Linked DNA regions of Homo sapiens: all the other regions are reported to be linked to region 2. Evidence: microRNA targets listed by miRTarBase, many of them from high-throughput screens and not tested one by one. Region 2 holds a microRNA gene; each other region holds the end of a gene's coding sequence. Distances are between the middles of the regions.

Region 1 (7,188 bases), not on the chromosome of region 2:
GAGGGAGAGCTGCTGATGGCCTGAGAGGTCCAACCGGGCCCTGGCTGCAGAGCTCAGGTGGTGGGGCTTGCAGGGCAGGGCTGTGGCCAGGGCAAAGAGCGGCCATCACCGCTTACGCATGACTCGAAGGTGTTTATGAGGACCTACTGTGTGCCATGTGCCTACTGAGGCTTACACATTCAAGGCGTTATCGGACCCTGACCAGTGCTCCCAGGTGCCCTGTAACACAGTCTGCTGGCCTCTGGGAGGGCAGTCTCCTAAGTTCTTTATGGGGTCTGAGCAGGGATTGCAGGGATGATGCCTCCAGGAGACCAAGGTGGACCAGGAGCTCCTGCCTTCTGTGAGAACCACCTTGGGCAGTCTTTCCGAGGTGGTGGCAAGAGCCTGGGGCCCAGCCTCCCAGGGTCCCCTCTCCAAGGCCATGGCTTTACTAACATGTAAAGTGACCAAGGCCTTTGTAGTGTCTGAGTGCAGGCACCACAGGCCTGTGTGCTCTGCCTGTCTGGCTTTGGTGGTGGCCAGCCCTGCCTCTGTGAACTCATCTCTCTTTGTTTGGGAGACACTGCCGTGTCCTGGTTCTCATCCTCTGCCCGTGGCCCAGGCCCTTACGTGGCTCTACCAGGAGTCTGTCCTTGGCACTTTCCCATCTCACTTCTACCAAGTCTGTTCTTTCCAGAAGCCAGACTCGTGGGTGAGCCATGTCACCTCGCCGAGCCTCAGTTTTTCCTTCTGTAAAATGGGGTACAGCCTTCATTTAGTGGGGTGAGTAAGCCTCATGTCTCTTCTGCTGGGGCACTGATGTGCTTGGCACCATAAAACTCCCAGAGGCAGGCCGGGCACAGTGGCTCATGCCTGGAATCTCAGCACTTTGGGAGGCTGAGGCAGGCGAATCACCTGAGGTCAGGAGTTCGAGACCAGCCTGGCCAACATGAAGAAACCCCGTCTCTACTAAAAATACAAAATTAGCCGGGCGTGGTGGTGCGCACCTGTAGTCCCAGCTACTCGGGAGACTGAGGCAGGAGAATCACTTGAACCCAGGAGGTGGAGGTTGCAGTGAGCCGAGATCGTGCCATTGCACTCCAGCCTGGACAAAAAGAGCAAAACTCCGTCTCAAAACAAACGAACACTCTCAGACGCCTCGGGAGGGGATGGCTGGGAGGTGAGCCTGCCTGACTTGAGTCTCCACTGCTTTGTCAAGGTGGTGACCAGAAGATGGAGGACTGGCAGGGTCCCCTGGAGAGCCCCATCCTTGCCTTGCCGCTCTACAGGAGCACCCGCCGTCTGAGTGAAGAGGAGTTTGGGGGGTTCAGGATAGGGAATGGGGAGGTCAGAGGACGCAAAGCAGCAGCCATGTAGAATGAACCGTCCAGAGAGCCAAGCACGGCAGAGGACTGCAGGCCATCAGCGTGCACTGTTCGTATTTGGAGTTCATGCAAAATGAGTGTGTTTTAGCTGCTCTTGCCACAAAAAAAAAAAAAAAAAAAAAAGGGTAACTATGAGAGATGGTGGATATGTTAACTTGCTTCGCTATAGGAACCTTTGTGCTATCTATATTATCTATATGAATCCCATCATATCAGGTTGTCTACCTTAAATATACACAAAAACATTTATTTAAAAAAAAGAAAAAAGCCTGCCAGCTGGGATTCTTGGAGTGCTGGTGGCCTTCAGCAAACACAGACACTGTTGGTGTGAGGGCTTCAGGAGGGTCACAGAAATAAGGGGGTCTGTGTGGCCCTGTCCTCGCCTCTCAGGTGCTGTCACATCTCTCTGGGTGTAGGGAGAGGGAGGGGGGCACACTGCGAAAAGGCCCAGCCCCTCCCCCCCACCTGCTCCCCTCTTCCCTGGAGAGGCACCCCACCTCCTGGTGGCCCAGTCCTATGGTTCAACTCTCACGTGGTCCAGCTCACCTGGGTTGACTGTGAGCCCCACCTGGCACACCTGCTGTTGTTAATCTGCACCTGCAACTAGCAAAGGGGGGTCTGGAATTCTTCCGGGTTCAGTCAGCCTGTGATCCCACACCTCTGTCTGTACAACCTCCGCTCCCCACTCCAACACACACAGAGCCTGCCCCAGCCTACCCTGCACCAGACCCTCTGTACCGGTTTTTCTTGGGATGGAGGTAGAGAGGGACGGAGGCGAGAGGGGGCTGAACTGGAACTGGATTAAACTTTGCCATCTGCCTGTCGCCCTGAAAACTTCATTTCTGTTTGCATGCCATATATATATTTTTTTATATGTGGTCTTTTCTTTTTTTTTTTTTTTGAGATGGAGTCTCGCTCTGTCGCAATGGTGCAATCTCGGCTCACTGCAACCTCCGCCTCCCGGGTTCAAGCGATTCTCCTGCCTCAGCCTGCCAAGTAGCTGGGACTACAGGCACGCGCCACCATGCCCAGCTAATTTTTGTATTTTTAGTGGAGACGGGGTTTCACCATGTTGGCCAGGGTGTTCTCGATCTCCTGACCTCGTGATCCGCCTGCTTCAGCCTCCCAAAGTGCTGGAATTACAGGCGTGAGCCACCACGCCCGGCCGATATGTGGTCTTACTCTGTCACCCAGGCTGGGGTGCAAAGGCGTGATCTTGGTTCACTGCAAACTCCGCCTCCTGGGCTCAGACAATTCTCCCACCTCAGCCTCTGGAATAGCTGGGACTGCTAGTAGCTGCCACCACGCCTCGCTAACTTTCGTTTTTGGTTTTGTTTGTTTGTTTGTTTGTTTGTTTGTTTTGTTTGTTTTGAGATGGACTCTTGCTCTGTTGCCCAGGCTGGGGTGTAGTGGCTCGATCTCAGCACACGGCCACCTCTGCCTACCGGTTTCAAGCAATTATCCTGCCTCAGCCTCCCAAGTAGCTGGGATTACAGGCGCTTACCACAACGCCCAGCTAATTTTTTTGTTGTTGTTGTATTTTTAGTAGAGACGGGGTTTCACCATGTTGGCCAGGCTGGTCTCAAACTCCTGACCTCAGGTGATCCAACCGCCTCGGCCTCCCAAAGTGCTGGGATTACAGGTGTGAGCCACTGCGCCCGGCCTTGCACACCATCTTTTTTTTTTTTTTTTTTTTTTTTTTTGACACAGAGTTTTGCTCTTGTTGCCCAGGCTGGAGTGCAATGGCACAATCTCGGCTCACCGCAACCTCCACCTCCCAGGTTCAAGCGATTCTCCTGCCTCAGCCTCCCGAGTAGCTGGGATTACAGGCATGCACCACCACACCAGGCTAATTTTTGTATTTTTAGTAGAGACGGGGTTTCTCCATGTTGGTCAGGCTGGTCTCGAACTCCTGACCTCAGGTGATCCAACCGCCTCGGCCTCCCAAAGTGCTGGGATTACAGGTGTGAGCCACCGCTCCCGGCCTTGCACACCATCTTAAGTGTGACGCCACACTGCCCTTCACAGCCTTGGGGCTCTGCCCAGACCAGGAGGAATGGGGAGGGGGTCTTTGACCCTACCCCAGGCTTAGCCCCAGAGAGGAGGAAAGAGTGGCAGGCCAGGCAGGGAGGGGCTCCAGGGTGTGGCCTGGGTTTTTCAGTGGGATGGGGGAGGGGTTGCTTATGAGCCTGGGTGGGTTCTTGGTAGGTGGTGGGCTTCCTAGAGGAGGCGGTGGGAGGGCAGGGGCAAAGAGGGTGAGCGGTCCTCAGTTCGTCCGTCTTCCCGGGGGACTCTCTGACCCTTTCTGGTCCGTGCTGCGGCCGGCGTGGCCCGGAGACTAGCCCCTCAACCCCGAGGTGGGGTGGACCCGGGTGCTCCGCGGCCACAGCCCCTCCCCGCCTCTAGAAGCGCAGTCCCGCGGCTCGCCCGCCGCTCGCGAGGGCCGCACTTTGCCCTCGGTCCCTAGCGGCGCCTGGCCACGCCCCCGGCGGGTGGAGTCGGGCGGGGCGCCGGGCAGGTTCCTCTGCGTTCCGCGGCGGCGGCAGCGGCGGCGACGGCGACATGGAGAGCGGGGCCTACGGCGCGGCCAAGGCGGGCGGCTCCTTCGACCTGCGGCGCTTCCTGACGCAGCCGCAGGTGGTGGCGCGCGCCGTGTGCTTGGTGAGCCCGGGGAGGGCGGGCCGAGGGCACCCTGGGGACCCCCTCTCCGTCGCCAGGCCCGGCGGGGCCCCTAGCCCACGAGCGCGACAGGTGGCGGCGGCCGCGTCCGGGGCCTGGCGGCGAGCGGGGCCGGCGTCCAGCGTCCCGGGCCCCGCCTTCCCGCCCTCCACAGTCTGTCCCGCTGTCCCCTCCCGGTCCCGGGTCCCGCCACCCACCCCACCCCCAGCCTCGCGCCCCGACGCGGGGTGTCCGGATCTCCGCAGGGAGCGGGCCCCTGCCTCGCTGGCAGTGGGAGGAGTTTGGGGGCGGCTCCCGGACAGGTGGCCCGCACGCCGCGACTCCCAGATTGGGGAGTTCACCGGGACGGGGTTTTCCGAAGCCACGTGGGGTAAGGGAGGGGGCGGGGGGCGACCCAACGCCCGGAAACAGGGTGTCCTTCCCACTCGGGGCAGGCCACGGGTCCGCCTTCCCACCCGAAGTTGAGGGACCCCAAGATGTACCCCCTCCCTGTAAGGTGGGCAATACCTCCAAAACCAGGTTTTGTGTGTGTGTGTGTGTGGCGGGGAGGGGGCCTGTTCTTGGACAGCCAGCCCTGAAAGCTGGAGGGGGTGGCATGAGGGGGCAGGCAGAGGTGGGCCTGCTGTGCCCAGACCATGCCTGGGCCTGGAGCTTCTGAGGTCCTCCAGGGCGCCCACACCAGCTCCCAGCCAGGCTGTGGGATCTGATCGCCTCTGTCCTGGGCTGTGTCCAAGAATCAGGTGCCCAGTGGGTCGGGATGGCAGTGCCAGGAGTCCTGGATGGGCACCCTGCTCCCATCATCCCGGAGATCCGGCTTCATCTCCATCTGGGGGCGGGGCCTGTGACTGCCAGCTCCAGAGCCCTATGGAGAGCTCCCTGGGACAACAGGGCAGGACTGGCAGGGGAGAGTCCTGGGGCCATCCCAGAGGGATCCTGATGCTCACAGACCTGTCCCACACCTGCTGAGGTGGAGCAGGCGTGGGTGGTGGCCTTCAAGTTTAGGGAGGTGGTATGGGGCTCTTCCCAAGGGGCTGGAGCTCCCCTACATCCACCCTGGGTCCTCCAGGTGTCTGAGTTCAGAGCTGTATCCACAGGCCTGAGTTAGTCCCCTTGTAGTGCCCTGTGCATGCAGGGCCCTCTGTGGGGTGGGAGACAGACTGGGAGGGACCAGGATGCCACAGAGGCTGCAAGTCCTTGTGTGGAGACAGCTGGCCAGGCTGAACCAGGGAGGGTTCCAGGGGTTCCAGGAGGTGAAGACACAGGGGCGCCAGCATGGCCTTCCCAAGAGGGCCTGTCCACCTTCACCAAGGTGTTCAGGCAGAGGCTGGGTGCTGTAGAAGTGACTTGGGCTGAAGGTGACGGGGGATGGGTAGTCTTTGTGACTTGGCCTGTCTTGGTTAAACCTCTTTCAAGGTGAGGTTGGGCTGGGGATGGAAGGACTGCCCTTCATCCATCAGGTACCTAAGCAGAATGATTCCTGCAGCAGGCCGATGGGGCAGGAGCAGCCCCTGCCTAGGAGGTCCCTGCCCATTCCCCACCCCTCCCCGGTCCAGGATTCCCAGGGGCAGGCCCCCTGGTGCCTGCAGATTCTCATCCTGGGGTGCATCAGGAAGCACTTTGCTCATCAGCTCACCTCCACAAGTTTGGAGGGGCTAAGATGTCAGCCTCCAAAAGGGGACAGCAGGCTGGGCGAGGTGGCTCATGCCTGTAATCCCAGCACTTTGGGAGGCCGAGGAGGGTGGATCACCTGAGGTCAGGAGTTCCAGACCAGCCTGGCCAACATGGTGAAACCCTATCTCTACTAAAAATACGGGTGTGGTGGAGGGCACCTGTAATCCCAGCTACTAGGGAGGCTGAGGCAGAATTGCTTGAACCCAGGAGGCAGAGGATGCAGTGAGCCGAGATCGCACTATTGCACTCCAGCCTGGGCAACAAGAGCAAGACTCCATCTCAAACAACAACAAAAACCCAAAAGGGGACAGCAGTAGTGGGAGAGGCCAGCATCTGTACACCCCATCAGGGTCCCCGCTGTGTGTGCCCCTCAGGCGGCCACCAGCCCTACCAGGTCCTCCCCTCCCGGCAGGTCTTCGCCTTGATCGTGTTCTCCTGCATCTATGGTGAGGGCTACAGCAATGCCCACGAGTCTAAGCAGATGTACTGCGTGTTCAACCGCAACGAGGATGCCTGCCGCTATGGCAGTGCCATCGGGGTGCTGGCCTTCCTGGCCTCGGCCTTCTTCTTGGTGGTCGACGCGTATTTCCCCCAGATCAGCAACGCCACTGACCGCAAGTACCTGGTCATTGGTGACCTGCTCTTCTCAGGTATCTGCCTGTGGCACCTCCATTTGATCTTGGGGGAGGCATTAACTCTAGGGTTCCGCAGCTGGGAGGGTCTCGGCCTCTCTGGGAGGGGCAGGGAGCAGCTCACTCCTCCAGGGCATTTTTAGGAAAGGGTTTTCAGCTAGTGTTTTTCCGTGCTTGAATGGCACCAGCCCTGCCTGGGGTAGCTAGAAGCTGAGTGGACCTGCAGCACACCCGAGCAGATGGGCTTTGCCTCTGCCCCTTTTGTCCCCTAGGCTGTCTGCTGTGGCCCACCCTGCCAAGGCCCGAGTGTGGGGGACTTTGGAGGTGGCTCCCGGCCCGGCTTCCAAGTCCTCCCCTCCATAGTGTGGAGGCTCCCCCGGGAGGTCCCTGCCCTACCTGCCCGCGTCCCCTCCCAGAGTCCTGGAAAGCCCCTCCCTTTCCATGGAACTGACGCTTCACCCGTCCTCCCCCAGCTCTCTGGACCTTCCTGTGGTTTGTTGGTTTCTGCTTCCTCACCAACCAGTGGGCAGTCACCAACCCGAAGGACGTGCTGGTGGGGGCCGACTCTGTGAGGGCAGCCATCACCTTCAGCTTCTTTTCCATCTTCTCCTGGGTAGGATGGCCAGGGGCCGGTTCTTGGGTCAAGGGTGGTGGAGGGTGGGGTCCCCCACCCACCTGTACCCTGCTGTGCTCCCCCTGCAGGGTGTGCTGGCCTCCCTGGCCTACCAGCGCTACAAGGCTGGCGTGGACGACTTCATCCAGAATTACGTTGACCCCACTCCGGACCCCAACACTGCCTACGCCTCCTACCCAGGTGCATCTGTGGACAACTACCAACAGCC
Region 2 (7,197 bases):
GTATTCATTGTGCTAGTTGTTGCAGCTTTTACCCAAATTTTGATCTATTCTGTTAGCCTCACCAATGCTACCCAGCCTGCTTTCCAAGAGCTATATGAGAGTCTTAGGCCACAATCCAACCCCAATTGTGAACCCTTTACATTACAGTTTGGGACACTCTTGAAGGAGGTGATGTACCCAGAGGAATTAACTCTAGTGAATAAGCTAGATTAGGAAGGTTTCTGGGGTCCTGGTTTGGACTAGGTTCTGCTTGGAGTGAATATATGGTCAAAAATTTTTCTTGCACTGTTAACAAAATTGCTCATTCCACTGCCCAAGCCACTAGGGCACAACAGAAGTCCCTAGACTCCCTTGCTTTCATGGTCCTAGATGACCACATTGCTTTAGATTATCGCCTCACTGCACAGGGTGGTGTTTGTGCTGTTGCTAACACTTGCGGCTGTGCCTGAAGAAATATTCCAGCCAGGGTGAATTGGGAACATTTAAGGTATCAAATTAATCAAATCTCTGAAAGGGACACCTTCAGGAAGCCTCCTGGCTGGCCTTACTGGGTTAACTTTCCAATATCCATGTATTTTTAGCTGGCTTCCCCCAGGTATAGAATTTTTCTGCATTCTACCCTAAAAGTATTTATCTTCCTCATATTTGGAAGCAGTTGCCTCCTCTGTAAAATTGTTTTATCCTCTTTTAACAGATGTCTGTAAGAGACCCCTACCAGGATAGTGTTGGCCTGATTCTTGAGACTTTAAACTCACTCTAGCAGGAAACCAAAAGCAACTTAACCCAAGAGACTTTTGTTCAAATTTAAGAGGTACCTGAGTGCCTCATAAGTAAATCATCATTTATTTGAAGTAAATGGCTCTAGTGCAGTTGGCTAGTGCCCTGCCACTGGGATCCATGTGTGGGACTAGATGGACCCAGAGCAGTTTGCTGGTGCTGTGATGAAAGGAAGTGCTGTGTGCTGCCATGTTTGAGCTAATTCTTCAAGATGGATCCTGAGTGGGTCACTAGGCCTAAATTTCAAATAAAGCAAAGTGGCCATTTGCTAACTAGGAGTCACAGAGGCACTCTGAGTTCCCTGAAAACCTACACTATTTAACATTGGGACTTTCAGGACTCCCCTAAACCAACCAATTAAAGGTCACTCACGTCCACCAATCCAGGGTCTGGTGTATCAACCAATCAGAACTGAGTTTTAAGTTTCAGTACTTCATTTGCATAAACAGGCTTGATTGGGAACCTGGGCAGGTTCTTCTTACTTAAATGTTACCATCCTAGCTTTTTTTTTTTTTTTTTGAGTTTTACCCTCATCTCCCAGGCTGGAGTGCAATGGGGGGATCTCGGCTCACTGCAGCCCCCACCTCCCAGATTCAAGGGATTCTCCTGCCTCTGCCTCCCAAGTAGCTGGGATTAATGGCACCGGCAACTACACCCAGCTAATTTTTGTGTGTTTAGTAGAGATGGGGTTTCCCCATATTGGTCGTGAACTCCTGTGCTCAGATGATGCATCTTCCTTGGATGCCCAAAATGCTAGGATTACAGCTGTGAGCTACCATGCCTGGCCCCTAGTCATTTAAAATTATGAAAAATACTTATCCAGGCAAACCTATGTTATGTCTACTAAAGGAAACTAAATAGTTTTGTGTCTATATCTGTGAAAACTTTATTTGTCCTAGCAATTTTTGATTTATTTTTGTTTGGAATACATTCTTTTTTTGATGTATGATTGTGGCTGGAAAACAGGAAAGATAATTTTGTCATTTTTTGTCTTTAATTCTTGCCCCATTTCCAACCAGTTCTCATCATTTTTTCAGATGATTCCAGAAAGATAACCACCTCCCTTTGTATACTCAATTAAATATTCAATAAATTAATATCCTGCATAAACAGAGTTGTTAAGTCACCAAGAGTTACTTCTAATTGTACAACTGGCCTATCACATCATGAATTTGTATGAACTGTCAGCTCAACATAAGTTTCACAGCCATTTGCTTCATTTAACGTGTCATATCAGACACCAACTTGGTTTTCTTGGAAAGTTTGAATTTGTAAACGGCAATTACCTAGTGTTGATTATTATTATAGAACTGTTAAGAATACCATTTAGGAACTCCTGTGGTAGATTCTCCACATTTTTCCTTCATATATCTTTTTATTAATATCTTTGAACTTCATTAGGCAATAAGCAGTAGAAGAATTTTATCAAAATTCTTTAAAAAAATAGAGTTAGATATGGACAGGCAATGAATTTGAGAGAAATGAACAATATAGGGCTTGCTCATTATTATTGTGAATAAAGCCTGAATTACATAATCCCTTCAATTTTTTGTGTGTGTGCTTTTCAGGGACATTATCTTATGTATGCATGGATATCTGTGAATATATGTATACATATGTATATTTTTAGAGAAATTTAGCTTTTCAACGAGTCTTCACTCAATTATCGCTGGTTGTTTGGAGAAGGTTGTCATTCTTTTTAATCTGTCTTTTTTTCTTCCCAGTATAAACTTATCTTGTAGTTGTCACATTTTACGTATTTCTGGGTTGAGAATCATTGTCTATATTTGTAGAATTGCATTCGGTATAGATAGCCTCATTCAGTATCATAATCAGTGATTTGCAAATTTTGGGAAGTCGGAATTCTTACAATGGATTGGTAGAGCTTTACTACCAGCCCCTTCAAGATTTTCATCCTCCAACTGCAGAACCAGGAAATTATCACTAATACAAATGGGAAAGAAAATATACATGCTGATAGTTACACAGGTTGTGAATAGTAAATTAGTATGTCATTTATTTTAGGTATTCAATGTTGCATAGTCATATTATAATTACGTAGCTTCTTTGTTTTTTTCTAGGTTCCCAAAGAGTCTACAAATGTTGTCTCCTTAATCCTTGCAACGAACCTGAGCCACTGATTCAGTAAAATACTCAGTGGCACATGTTTGTTGTGAGGGTCAAAAGAGATAATCTCTACAGGCCTCATGGACACTGCAAACCATGTAAGTCATCAGTTATGTAGCTACTGCTGCTTCTCCTTCACCTCCTTGTAGTGACACTGGTAGTAGAGTAATCATAGCGGTAGAGACTGTATTACTAGTACTTTGGTAAAAATGACAGCATGTTCAATAAACACCTTTTATTAGGTCAGAGATCAGAGGACAGGTAGCAGCAAGATGAATTTCTTCTTATTTTCTGTTTTTCTGAGGTTAATGTGGATGGTTTCTGTGAGGTTAACGCTGCGTAGCAGTCTTAATGTTGTTCTATGATCACATGATTAGCTGTGATTACTGTGATTATCTCTGCATTTCTGGTTTTTTCCATTTGCAAATGTATGTTCTACACATGTCCTCAATTGCTATGACAAATCAAAACTGTTCTGTGATTATATGGTTATCTGTGATTACTGTGATTATCTCTGCATTTCTGTGTGTCTTTTTCCATTTGCAAATGTACGTTATATACATGTCCTCAATCACTGACAAATCAAAACTTTCGGATATCGTTTCTTTGGGAACAATTTGTTGTAGTTATGGAATGTGGAAATGCATATGAAAATCTGAAGTACATATCTGCCAGGCATGTAGTCATTAAGCAAATTGTCCTGTTAGTACTACTGCAAGCAGTACTAGTACTATAACTAATGGTATCAGTCCTAGTAACACTGCTATTATATTAGTACTAAGAAGGGTATCATCAGTTATCACTCATAGGATTTCATTGGTGGTTTTTCATATACATATTGTAATGTATTCTGCTTTATGATTCAATTTACATATTTTTCTAGAATACCCTGTGGATATCTATGCCCATAGAGATAATTTATTTGCAGTGCAAGCGTTGACGCCACTGCAAACACAGGTAAGGGGAAGTTAATGGTTGAAGATGACAGACTTGATTTTATTCATCCATGATTGCAAATTATAAAATATTATGTCCTTACCTGATCATTTACTTTAATTTGGCATAATTGTTGCATATAAATGGTGAATGGGACATCCTCACCTGGTTCCTGATCTTAGGAGTCAAACATAAAAATGTTAACAATTAAGTCTTCCGTTAGCTGTGCGTTTTCATAGAAGCCCTTCAACCAATTGAGGATATACTCGATTCTATGCCTGATTTGCTGTTATTATTTTTAGATATGGATGTTAGATTTAGTCACATATTTCTCCGCATCAATTGAAATGATCTCTTTTTTTCCATTTTAATCTGTTAATATTGAAAATTGCCAGGCTTTGCCTGGGTTCCCATTCTTTGCACTGGAGTCAATATTCTCTCTCTGAGAAGTTGGCAGGAGAATGGACGGACTGTTCTAATGTGTCCCCTCTCTCACAGATCACTCTACAGTGTCTGAAAGACATGTTTTTCTGTATATATCTGGTTTTTCTTTGTTTTAGACAGCAGATTAATTTGGTCACTATTCCTTCATCTGATCTGGAAACAGTAATCTCCGATTACCAAATGGTAAGAGCCTGGAAATCCTTAGACATGTAGAGGCCTATGTACAAAAAGCTCATAATTTTTACATATTACCTATTCATTACCATCTTACCTCTGATATCGTTCATTATTTTTGAGACCATTCTAGTGAGATGTTTACACCTATAGGATTTTTAAATAGTTTTCAGTAAAGCATTGCTCCACCTAATTCATCTGGTAAGGGCTTTAAGTTGTTAGCCATCCTGAAGTCTCCTCTTGGAAATGTTTGTATGTTTCGGAGATCTGAGTATACAGTTGGGCACTTCTACAGATTCGTCTTTCTTTTTGCTAAGATTCTTGTTTTTCCGTTATTTATTGATAGTTAATACTGATGGTTTGTGAAGTAAGTACTTTGTGTAGTGTCTCTTTGTTCTCTCCCACCCTTACAAATCTAATGGTTTTAATGTTTTAATGACTCTAGATAGACAGTGATATCTCCATTTTTAATGCATTGCTGTATTAAAGAAATTCTCATTCCACATCATCACAGTCAGTAAGTTCCAAGCAAGTCACTTAGGAGAACTCTGCCTTCCCATCATAAATCTGAAAGTACCTGCTGCCAGCTGTTTCTGGATTGCTGTCTCATTCATCAGAATTATAAAGATTTTGGGACAATTTGTTGTAAAGAAAGATAGTTGATAGTGATGGTGAATTATAGGTAATAGAATTCCTGACAAACTTATCTCATAGATGGTTAAGTAGGTTGTAAATAGGAAATTTCATGGGTCATTTTTCTTCTTTAAATATGCCCTTTATGTTACATGAAACATAATATCTGCTGCATTGTTATATCTGAGGATCCAAGTGAATTTTCACACGTGTTCTCACGAATCTTCATGACAAATCCATGTCAATGAGTGTGTAGTGGATTCATCATCATGTGTTTGTTGTGAGAACGTATGAGAAGATTCACAGAAAATTCCTAAGTACATTGATGTGGTGTAAGTGGGCATTTCAGAAATGTAAGTTCTTGTTTTAGCTCTTGTCCTTTTACTTCTATTTACTTTTTTTAATGAAATTCTATTTTTACGGAATAAGGCAATGAAATATAATGAGATATATAGTAGTCTCTGACTCCATGCCAACTGGTGTGTTTAGTGCTTCTCATTGCATGGTAAACAGCCTATCATCATCTTTGTGAGTTAAATCCCCTAGGGCCAGTGGAAGAAATAAATACTGGCAGAACTGGGTCAAAATAGGAATCGTTTTCCAGATGTTTGCCTTCAAAGCTTTTCTAGACCTTTAACAGTCCGATAAAATGGACATATTTCTTCTCTGCTCTGTATCTACAATTATATTTGCTTTGATGAAGAAAGGATATGAAACTTTGCTACATTTGTGTCAAGCTTAGTAGCGGGATAATAGGTGAATGATCGCCTGGATATTGATAATTTCAGGTGGGAGTGAGAGTAAGGTTCCAGTTATGGCCAGGAGAACTGGATTGGGGTCAGGCATTTAGCAAATGTCATCTGTGCAAACCACTTATGAGACAGAGCTTACGTTTCTTGGTTCTTGTCTCCTAGATTTTGGCCAGGCATTTCCTCACTTACAGGAAGGTGTTTGAGACTTTCAAGAGGAGCTGTAAAATATATTTTGTTTAGCTTGCTTAGTTGTCCGAAGCAGTAATGTTGGAATGAATTGCCTTTCCCCATTATCAAAATCAGTAGTTTCCAAATATGTTTTAATATAATGATTGCTGGTACTAAGGGAAGCTTTTGGTTTTTGTATATGTCTTGTCTAACCAACTTACTAAAGCTAGTTAACAGTAATCATTTCGGATTAATTTTCTTCAGTTCTTTGGGTGTTTGATATTAACTACGTGCATGAGGCATTGCAAAACTAAAAGCAAACTCCACATTCCGTTTTGATAGTGAATCAGAGAGCATGCTAAATGTTGGAAATAGGCCTCACCCATTTGTCTACATTTGCCTTTTAGAGACAAGATGTTTACTTCAGGCAGGGCGTGGTGGCTTACGCCTGTAATCTCAAAACTTTGGGAGGCTGAGGGGGGCGAATCACCTGAGGTCAGGAGTTAAAGACCAGCCTGGCCTACATGGTGAAACGCTGTCTCTACTAAAAATACAAAAATTAGCTGGACATGGTGGCAGGAGCCTGTAATCCCAGCTACTCAGCAGCTGAGGAAGAAGAATTGCTTGAACCTGGGAAGCGGAGGTTGCAGTGAGCCGAGATCCTGCCATTGCACTCCAGCCTGGGCAATGTAAGTGAAACTCTGTCTCAAAAAAAAAAAAAAAAGAAAAAACAAAACAAAAGACTAGGAAGGTATCATTTAAGAAAGAAGAATGAAATAAATTAATACATTTGAATATTGAATATATTTTCCTGAATAGTTGTTGCTTGAATACCTTTTCTTTCATTGTGTTAATGTTTTATAGTCCCTTAGAAATTTATGCTATAAGGAGATTCTATTTTGGTGTATTTCAAGGTTTTGTTAGAAGATCTAGAACTCCTTTTAGCATTTCTTGTAGTGCTGGCTTGGTAGTGGTGTATTCTCTTCAGCATTTGTCTGAAAAATTTTATCTCTCCTTCATTTATGAAGCTTAATTTTGTGGGATACAAAATCCTTGGCTGATAATTATTTTGTTTGAAAAGGCTAAAGATAGGATATCAATCTCTTCTGGCTTGTAAGGTTTCTGCTGAGAAATCTGCTGTTAATCTGATAGGTTTTCCTACTATATAGGTTACCTGATGCTTTTG
Region 3 (7,197 bases), 11 Mb from region 2:
GGTTACCCATGTTATATATTCTCATAGCCCCTTGTATCTTTCCTTTATCACTTTTACTGCAAATTATAATTATATATTTATTAGCATGATTATTTAAATGTCTGTCTCCTGCACAATACTGTAAATTCAATGAGGGCTGGGACCACGTCTGTTTTAAACACCATTGTATTTCTAATATCTAGTGTGCTTCCTGCACTTGGCAGGCACTCAGTAAATATTAGAATAAGTGAATGATTGAATTCAGGGCAAATATAAAGCATAGAGCTTATTACTGGATTGATGGAAACCAAAGCCAGAAAGGCAGCTTGATGCCAGACTGTAAAGGCTCTCAGTTCCTTGCTGAAGTATGGAGCCAGATTCATGAGTCAGGCCAGGTTGATGGTTGGGGAACAGTGAGCCCCCAGGCTGGATAGGGAAGGAATCCCTGGGCTGGGTATAGAGGTTCTTGATGTCCAGATCTGGAGTTTTACTGGAAGGATAGGAACAGGAGCCAGTTGTCAGGATAAAGAGGCAATAGACAACGGGTATTGAGACCACAAGTGTAGATTATTCATTGTAGAAGCTTAACTGGAGAATAACTGAAGGGATCAAAGAAAGGGACTCTTCTAGAAATAGACCTTTGGGTTTTGAAAGCAAGAAGAAAGGAAATAGTGTAAGGAATTATAAATGGCATAGAATTGGAGGGGGAAATCATTTAAAAAATGTGTTTGAATTGAAGGCCCTTTGGGAATGGGGAAGTGATAACTCTAGGGGAGTTGAAAGACTTTGTTTTAGAGTAGAGGAACTATGAGGCAGTGTACTTGATCGAACACCTCTGATAGTCCGAGTATGGTTACCTCAATAAGTAACCATTCCTCTTGCTCCAAGCCTGATGGGAAGGTAAACATAAGAATAGAAATTTCTTGAGCTGAAGTGAAGTGAAGGAACTCCCTCCCGAAAACCATGGCATGTCACGAGGAACGTTTATTGTAGGTTAGGCGGTCTGGTGCCTCTAGGGGGGACAATCAAATGATACAGGACCTCGAAGAGTCTTACTTTGGATTTCTGTGGCTTTATAATGTAGTATATTATGTAGTTCATTGCTGTGGCTTTATGCTTTTTTATTATTTACAAGTGATTTACTGATTTGTGAGCTCTTGAAACTGTGTCATTGCATGTTATGTTTACCCTGATAGTTGCATTTGCTTATAATTCTTTTTGCTTTGTCTTCAGTTCAGATATTTTGGATGGCAGTAGTAGCAGCAGTGGCTTATCCTCAGACCCGCTGGCTAAAGGCAGCGCTACCGCAGAGTCTCCAGTAGCATGCTCCAATTCATGCTCTTCGTTCATCTTGATGGATGATCTCTCACCCAAGTGACTTAACCATTTCTGATTCAACGTTTTAACTGCTGTTTCCTACATAAAATGTTTAGTGGGGAACGCAGAGAACTTTGATCCATAATGAGGATTAAAGTTTTACAGATTTCACACATTCTGATGCTATTATTACTCTTTGGCATCTCTCTTCTCCAAAGTTCAATTTTGTGAGCCTAGTGACCTTACTAGTATCTGGTTTTGCTGATCTCATTTTGGATTTAGTGATTAAATCTCAAATGCTGATTTTTGATTGCTTAGAGGAATCTTTTTTCTTAGTGCCTCAAAAAACACCTATTTTGAGTCTATACATTTAAGAAAGGCACTGATGTGTATTGCCTTTAATGGTCCTTTTCCGCAGCAGTGATATGACAGATTTGATCAGAAATTCTCTTGCTTGAGAGATTTTTTTTTGTCCTCTGTTGACTACATAGTTTCAAATCTCTCTTTATTTCATGATGATATATAAATTGCTTTTAATTATATTAAATTTTTATTTTTCTGCATCAGCTTCAAGTACATTATTTTGTTTCCCTTTCCTGTTTGAGCCGCTTATGCCATTTCTCACAGAGGGGAAGAAATACGTAGTTGCTTTCATTACTCTTATTGCTTCTTTGCTGTTGGGGTGTGTGAAGTGAGCATTGATTTTAGTGCTGAGAATGTAAACGGACTTACAGGATGCTTGGATTAGTCATCACAGGTTCTTATGACTTTGCTACCACAGTTGATATATTTCTCCTCAAACCTGTTGCCCTAAGGAATATATAAAATATTGTTGATATTTCTAGGTGGTGTTATCAAGGAGAAGAAATTCCTGCCTTGACCAGATGTGTGGAGCATCTACAAATGAATGAATAGTTATTTACACACAAACCACTGTGTACAAAAGCGTCCATGGAGCTGTCAGTGTCTCGAGTGGTATTATGAGGCCTCAGGTGCCTTGGGGTACATTGTCATGCTATAAGGGATGTATATCATAAGGTATGGTGGAAGAGGGGCCTTATGTGAATGATTGCCACATACTGTTTCTGTTGCTGCTTTTTTTCCGATTCCTTTTTGTCATTGGATTTGTTTGTTTTGTCATGTGGTGAATGGTGTTTTAGTTATTGTGTTGCTGCCAGAATCAGAATCCAGTTCTTGTTCTTACTGCCTTATAGTTATTGTGTTGCCACCAGAATCAGAATCCAGTTCTTGTTCATACTGCCTTGTAGTGAGGGCAGTTTAATATCTACAAAGAAGCTTTTAGAAGCTGAAAAAGTCAATGTGATTGTGCATTCTGCTTTTAAGAAGCTGTTTCAGCTATGAACTGTGTATGTGCTATAAGTGTGAGGTACCATAAGTTATTTAATTTTTAAAAGAGGAAACTCCTGAGTGAGCTGTTTAAGAAATCTGAGTGTGATCTATTGTTACGTTATTTATAACTAGGTAAAATGTCTGTCGTGATAGATTTCTTTTAACGTTCAGATACTGTGGTTGGGTTGTCTATATTTAATATGCAGATTTGCCTGCTGGAATCATAATCCATTTTTAAGTGAATGTAAGAAATGAAAACTACTGCATTTGTGTCTTTTGAAGGCAAGGATCCTTGGATTTTAAAGGAAGAGTATGTGCTTTGAAGGCACTCAGAGACTAGTAATAGCATATGGTTTGAAGGGAAACCCATTCTCTTTCAATTACAAGAGAGCATCACTTAGCGTGCAGTACTTCTGTTACAGCATCCGATGTGTCCTTTATTTTAAATTGTAACCATAACAGCCATTAATGGCTTTATTTCTTGTATTGCTCTCATCTGGGAAAAGTCTCTACTTCTTCAAACGTAACATAAATCTATTATGAAGCTTGTCCCCTAGTATGCCATTATAAAGAAAAAATTCTTCGATGGTATGCAGTGTATCTATTCTGTTTGTAAAAGATCATGTCAAAATGTTCTGCCTCTATAATGATAATAGATGGTTTTGTCTTTCAGGATATTTATCCACCTACTGTCTTCTTTGCCTTAAAGGGACACTTGGCCATCATTTTTAGGCTCGAACTTAACACTGTTAAGAAATAACTGAAATATGATGGTATTTACATTAATTTTTGAAATTCAATGGTGGGATAGAATTAGGTCAGGAAATGGAAGTTGTTCCAATGGTGTGAGAACTAGGAGACAAGATGATTCACTTTATTATTTAAACCAAGCTTCATTTTTAGTTTTTGTTGTTTAAATGGACTGGAAAGTTAAGTTTTTGCAGGGATTGTTTTGAAATAAAGAGATATGCTAACTCACAGATGAACTTTGTTAAGACCCCTTTATTTTTATATAAAGTCTAATATTTGAAAAGCGATTGTTATAAAGTAAAATTCTCTCTTCCTATTCTAATATATATCATATATTTCAGGCTTCTATTTGAAAACAGGTATAAGAGATGATATGATACAACCCTATAGATAATGTTTTTTGCTTGATTGACTTATATAATCACTGTTTCATGATTACTGCTTTTGGAATAATAGGAAGTTTTGTGAAATGCTGGCCTTGTGTATATCTTAGAATGCAAATTTAATAAAGTGTGTATACATGCATAAAATTTACTAGTGTTTTAAAAGTCTGTCCTTTGTTCTTAATAATAATTATTTTCTGCCCCTATATCCCAGTAGTTTATTCTCTGTGTCTAATTGCAGGTCAAGTTTGAATAAAAGGATATCAGAAACACAAAAGAACGAATAGCTATGTTGAAGTTGGGGCTGTTTGCCAAAACGAAGTGAAACCTCTCCACATAATCAAATTTTCAAGAGTATTTTGTAGAATTTGACAACTTAGAAGGTTCTTGCCAGGGTCATACATCTTTCTTCCTCGTTTTCAATTTGGTTTATCTTGTTAAAATTTTTACATATTGATAAGCCTCTATAAATTATTTTTAGAAAAAGATGAGGGTAGATAAACAGGCAAAAGGGTCCGGGCACAGTGGCTCACGCCTGTAATCCTAGCACTTTGGGAGGCTGAGGCAGGCAGATCACGAAGTCAAGAGATCAAGACCATCCTGGCCAACATGGTGAAACCTCGTCTCTACTAAAAATACAAAAATTAGCTGGACATGGTGGTGCACACCTGTAGTCCTAGCTACTCGGGAGGCTGAGGCAGGAGACTCGCTTGAATCCGGGAGGCGGAGGTTGCTATGAGCCGAGATTGTGCCACTACACTCCAGCCTGGTGACAGAACAAGACTCCATCTTAAAAAAACAAAAAACAGGCAAAAAGCCTTTTATGTGTGATTCAGATTATTAAGTTTATCTTCAGTTTCTTTTTTTTTTTTTTTTTTTTGAGGCAAAGTTTTGCTCTTGTTGACCAGGCTGGAGTGCAGTGGCACAATCTCTGCCCACTGCAACCTCTGCCTCCTGGATTCAAGCATTTCTTCCTGCCTCAACCTCCTGAGTAGCTGGGACTACAGGCGCCCGCCACCATGCTTGGCTAATTTTTGTATTTTTTAGTAGAGATGGAGTTTCATCATGTTGGCCAGGCTGGTCTCAAACTTCTGACCTCAGGTGATCTACCTGCCTCAGCCTCCCAAAGTGCTGGGATTACAGGCGTGAGCTACCTCGCCTGGCCCTATCTTCAGTTTTTAAGAAATAACATGAGCTGCTTTATTTTAAAATACATTTTGGGCTGGGCATGGTGGCTCACGCCTGTAATCCCAGCACTTTGGGAGGCCAAGGCGGGTGGATTGCTTGAAGCCAGGAGTTTGAGACCGGCCTGGGCAACATGGCAAAACCCTGTTTCTACTAAAATTACAAAAATTAACTGGATGTGGTGGCGTGCGCCTGTAATCCCAGCTACTTGGGAGGCTGACGCTTGAACCTGGGAGGCAGAGGTTGCAGTGAGCTGAGATTGCACCACTGCACTCTAGCCTGGGTGACAGAGCGAGACTGTTTAAAAAAAAAAAAACAAAAAAAAACCTTTACATTTTGAAATTTGAAATAATTTCAAACTTACAAAAAAGTTGTAAGAGTAGCTCAAATAACTCCTATATATCCTTCACCCAGGTTCCTTAATTGTTAACATTTAACCACATTTGCTTTGTCTATCTGTCTCTCCTATATATGCACTATCATTCTGTCTCTCCCTGTGTCTCTCTGTGTGGGGGGGATGTATATACATATATATATATATGCACGTATACATTTTTTTCCTGAATCATATGATGCCCCATTGCCCTTACATGCTTCAGCGTAAATTTCTTAAAGATATTCTACATAACCACATTACAACTATCAAAATCAGAAAATTAACTGACACAAAACTGCCATCTATTAGCTGAGCATAGTGGCTCCCAGCATTTTGGGAGGCTGAGGCGAGAGGATCACTTAAGTCCAGGAGTTTGAGACCAGCCTGGGCAACATAGCAAGACCCTGGTATCTATATTTTTTTTAAATAAAAAGATTTTTTTAAACTGCCTCTGATCTACAGACCCATTCAGTTTTTGCCTATAGTTGTGATAATGCCGTTTTTGGCAAAAGGGAAAAAATCTTTTTTTTTTCTTCTGGAGGAGGAGACTTTCTTATCTTAGTAACTGACACCCTCACCCACCCAGCTACTCAAACCAAGAACCCAGGAGTTAACCTTGACTTGTTGCTTACTTTCATTCCTTGCATATAATTTTTCAGCATGACTTTTCATACTGTTTCTGAGATATATCTTCTTGCCCTTGTCAAAGAGGAACAATACCAGACATAGTTAGCAACACAGATTTTATTCAGACTACTTCAATAGGGGAGAGACCCCTATTTCTTCTAGAGGAGGCACATGGTGTTACTTTGTCCTGTTACTAGTGATGATAACTTTGATCCCTTGGATAAGGTGGTGTCTACTGTCTTTTTCCCATTGAAATTAAAGTATTTTGTGTGGAGGTACTTTGAGACTATAAATATCCTGTTTACTCATTAAACTTTGACCCCCTAGTTTTAGCATTCATTGATCTTTCTTGTCTGATGGTATTATGATGGCTGCCTGATAGTATCATGATGGCTACCTAATGCTGGCTCTAATTCCATCATTAATTTATTAGTTGACATTCTACTGTAAAGGAGAACACACTCTCCTCCACCACTTTGCATCAGTGTGGACTCATGGACTCCTGTTTTAGTTAGTTTTACTTCATTACCATGATTGTTTTGATATTCAAGTTGCCTCAGATTTGGAAAATGAGGGCCCCTCCAACTTGTCCCTGTGTCCTTTGGACAAATCCCTATCAGTTTCTGAGCAGTTTTTTACTTTTCTGGCTCAAGATGTCCCAGATTCATACTCTGCTTGCCCCAGCCCCTGGGATCAGCCATTTCTCTGAGGAGCCCCTTGATTCCTTTTAATAGAGAACAATGTTTAAAAACCAAGGTGGGGAACTAGGTATATCATCGCTATTGGGGCATCATTGTTTAAAGGCCTCAGATCACAGAGAAAAACACATGTATGTGTATATATACACCATGTAAATGTATATACACATCTATATTTGTTTATTAAATATAATGAGTTCAAACTATACCTCTGATTCCAATTCAGTACCACAGGGTTCATTCCAGTGTTTATCTCAGTGTAATTACTCCTTTCTCCTATGTGTAACCAATTTCCTACCCTGCCAGCTGGCTACCCGGCCTGCCTCCTCAGCCCCATCCATCTCCTTGGCTCTGACCCTGATGGCCTGCCAGTCCTGGCTGCCTGGATGGAAGGAAGGAAAGAGGATCTAAGTCCTCAAGTTTTAAATATCCCTGGTTCACACCCACCCCAACCACCACAAGCTCCTTATCTTCTGTGCTTGACTGTTCACAGCTTGGGAATTTCTTACATTCATCAATTTAACAAATATTT

The links. Region 2 holds the annotated microRNA hsa-miR-891a-3p (AGUGGCACAUGUUUGUUGUGAG, at 2,934-2,955, shown strand). A microRNA usually pairs through its seed, bases 2 to 8, with sites in the 3' UTR of a target mRNA and lowers its output. Matches are read on the target gene's strand: a 7mer-m8 pairs with bases 2 to 8, a 7mer-A1 pairs with bases 2 to 7 and ends in A, and an 8mer does both.
Region 1: miRTarBase lists C17orf99 as a target of hsa-miR-891a-3p. Seed matches in the 3' UTR shown: 7mer-A1 at 1,460-1,466.
Region 3: the mRNA of PABIR2 is a reported target of hsa-miR-891a-3p. Seed matches in the 3' UTR shown: 7mer-A1 at 2,367-2,373.

The regions. Positions count from the first base shown.
Region 1 is chr17:78,164,691-78,171,878 of GRCh38, forward strand. It overlaps C17orf99 (chromosome 17 open reading frame 99), which reads left to right. Exons shown (of 5, transcript NM_001163075.2): 5 at 1,199-1,607. The coding sequence ends at 1,356. It overlaps SYNGR2 (synaptogyrin 2), which reads left to right and starts at 3,891. Exons shown (of 4, transcript NM_004710.7): 1 at 3,891-4,025; 2 at 6,127-6,364; 3 at 6,820-6,959; 4 at 7,049-7,188. The coding sequence starts at 3,927. RefSeq lists silencers at 3,554-4,163, 4,194-4,353 and an enhancer at 7,183-7,188.
Region 2 is chrX:146,023,562-146,030,758 of GRCh38, reverse strand. It overlaps MIR891A (microRNA 891a), which reads left to right and starts at 2,887; the gene lies at 2,887-2,965.
Region 3 is chrX:134,766,299-134,773,495 of GRCh38, reverse strand. It overlaps PABIR2 (PABIR family member 2), which reads left to right. Exons shown (of 10, transcript NM_001387468.1): 10 at 1,213-3,930. The coding sequence ends at 1,357. Among named protein-coding and RNA genes, the nearest start is that of PABIR2, 27 kb to the left of the region's middle.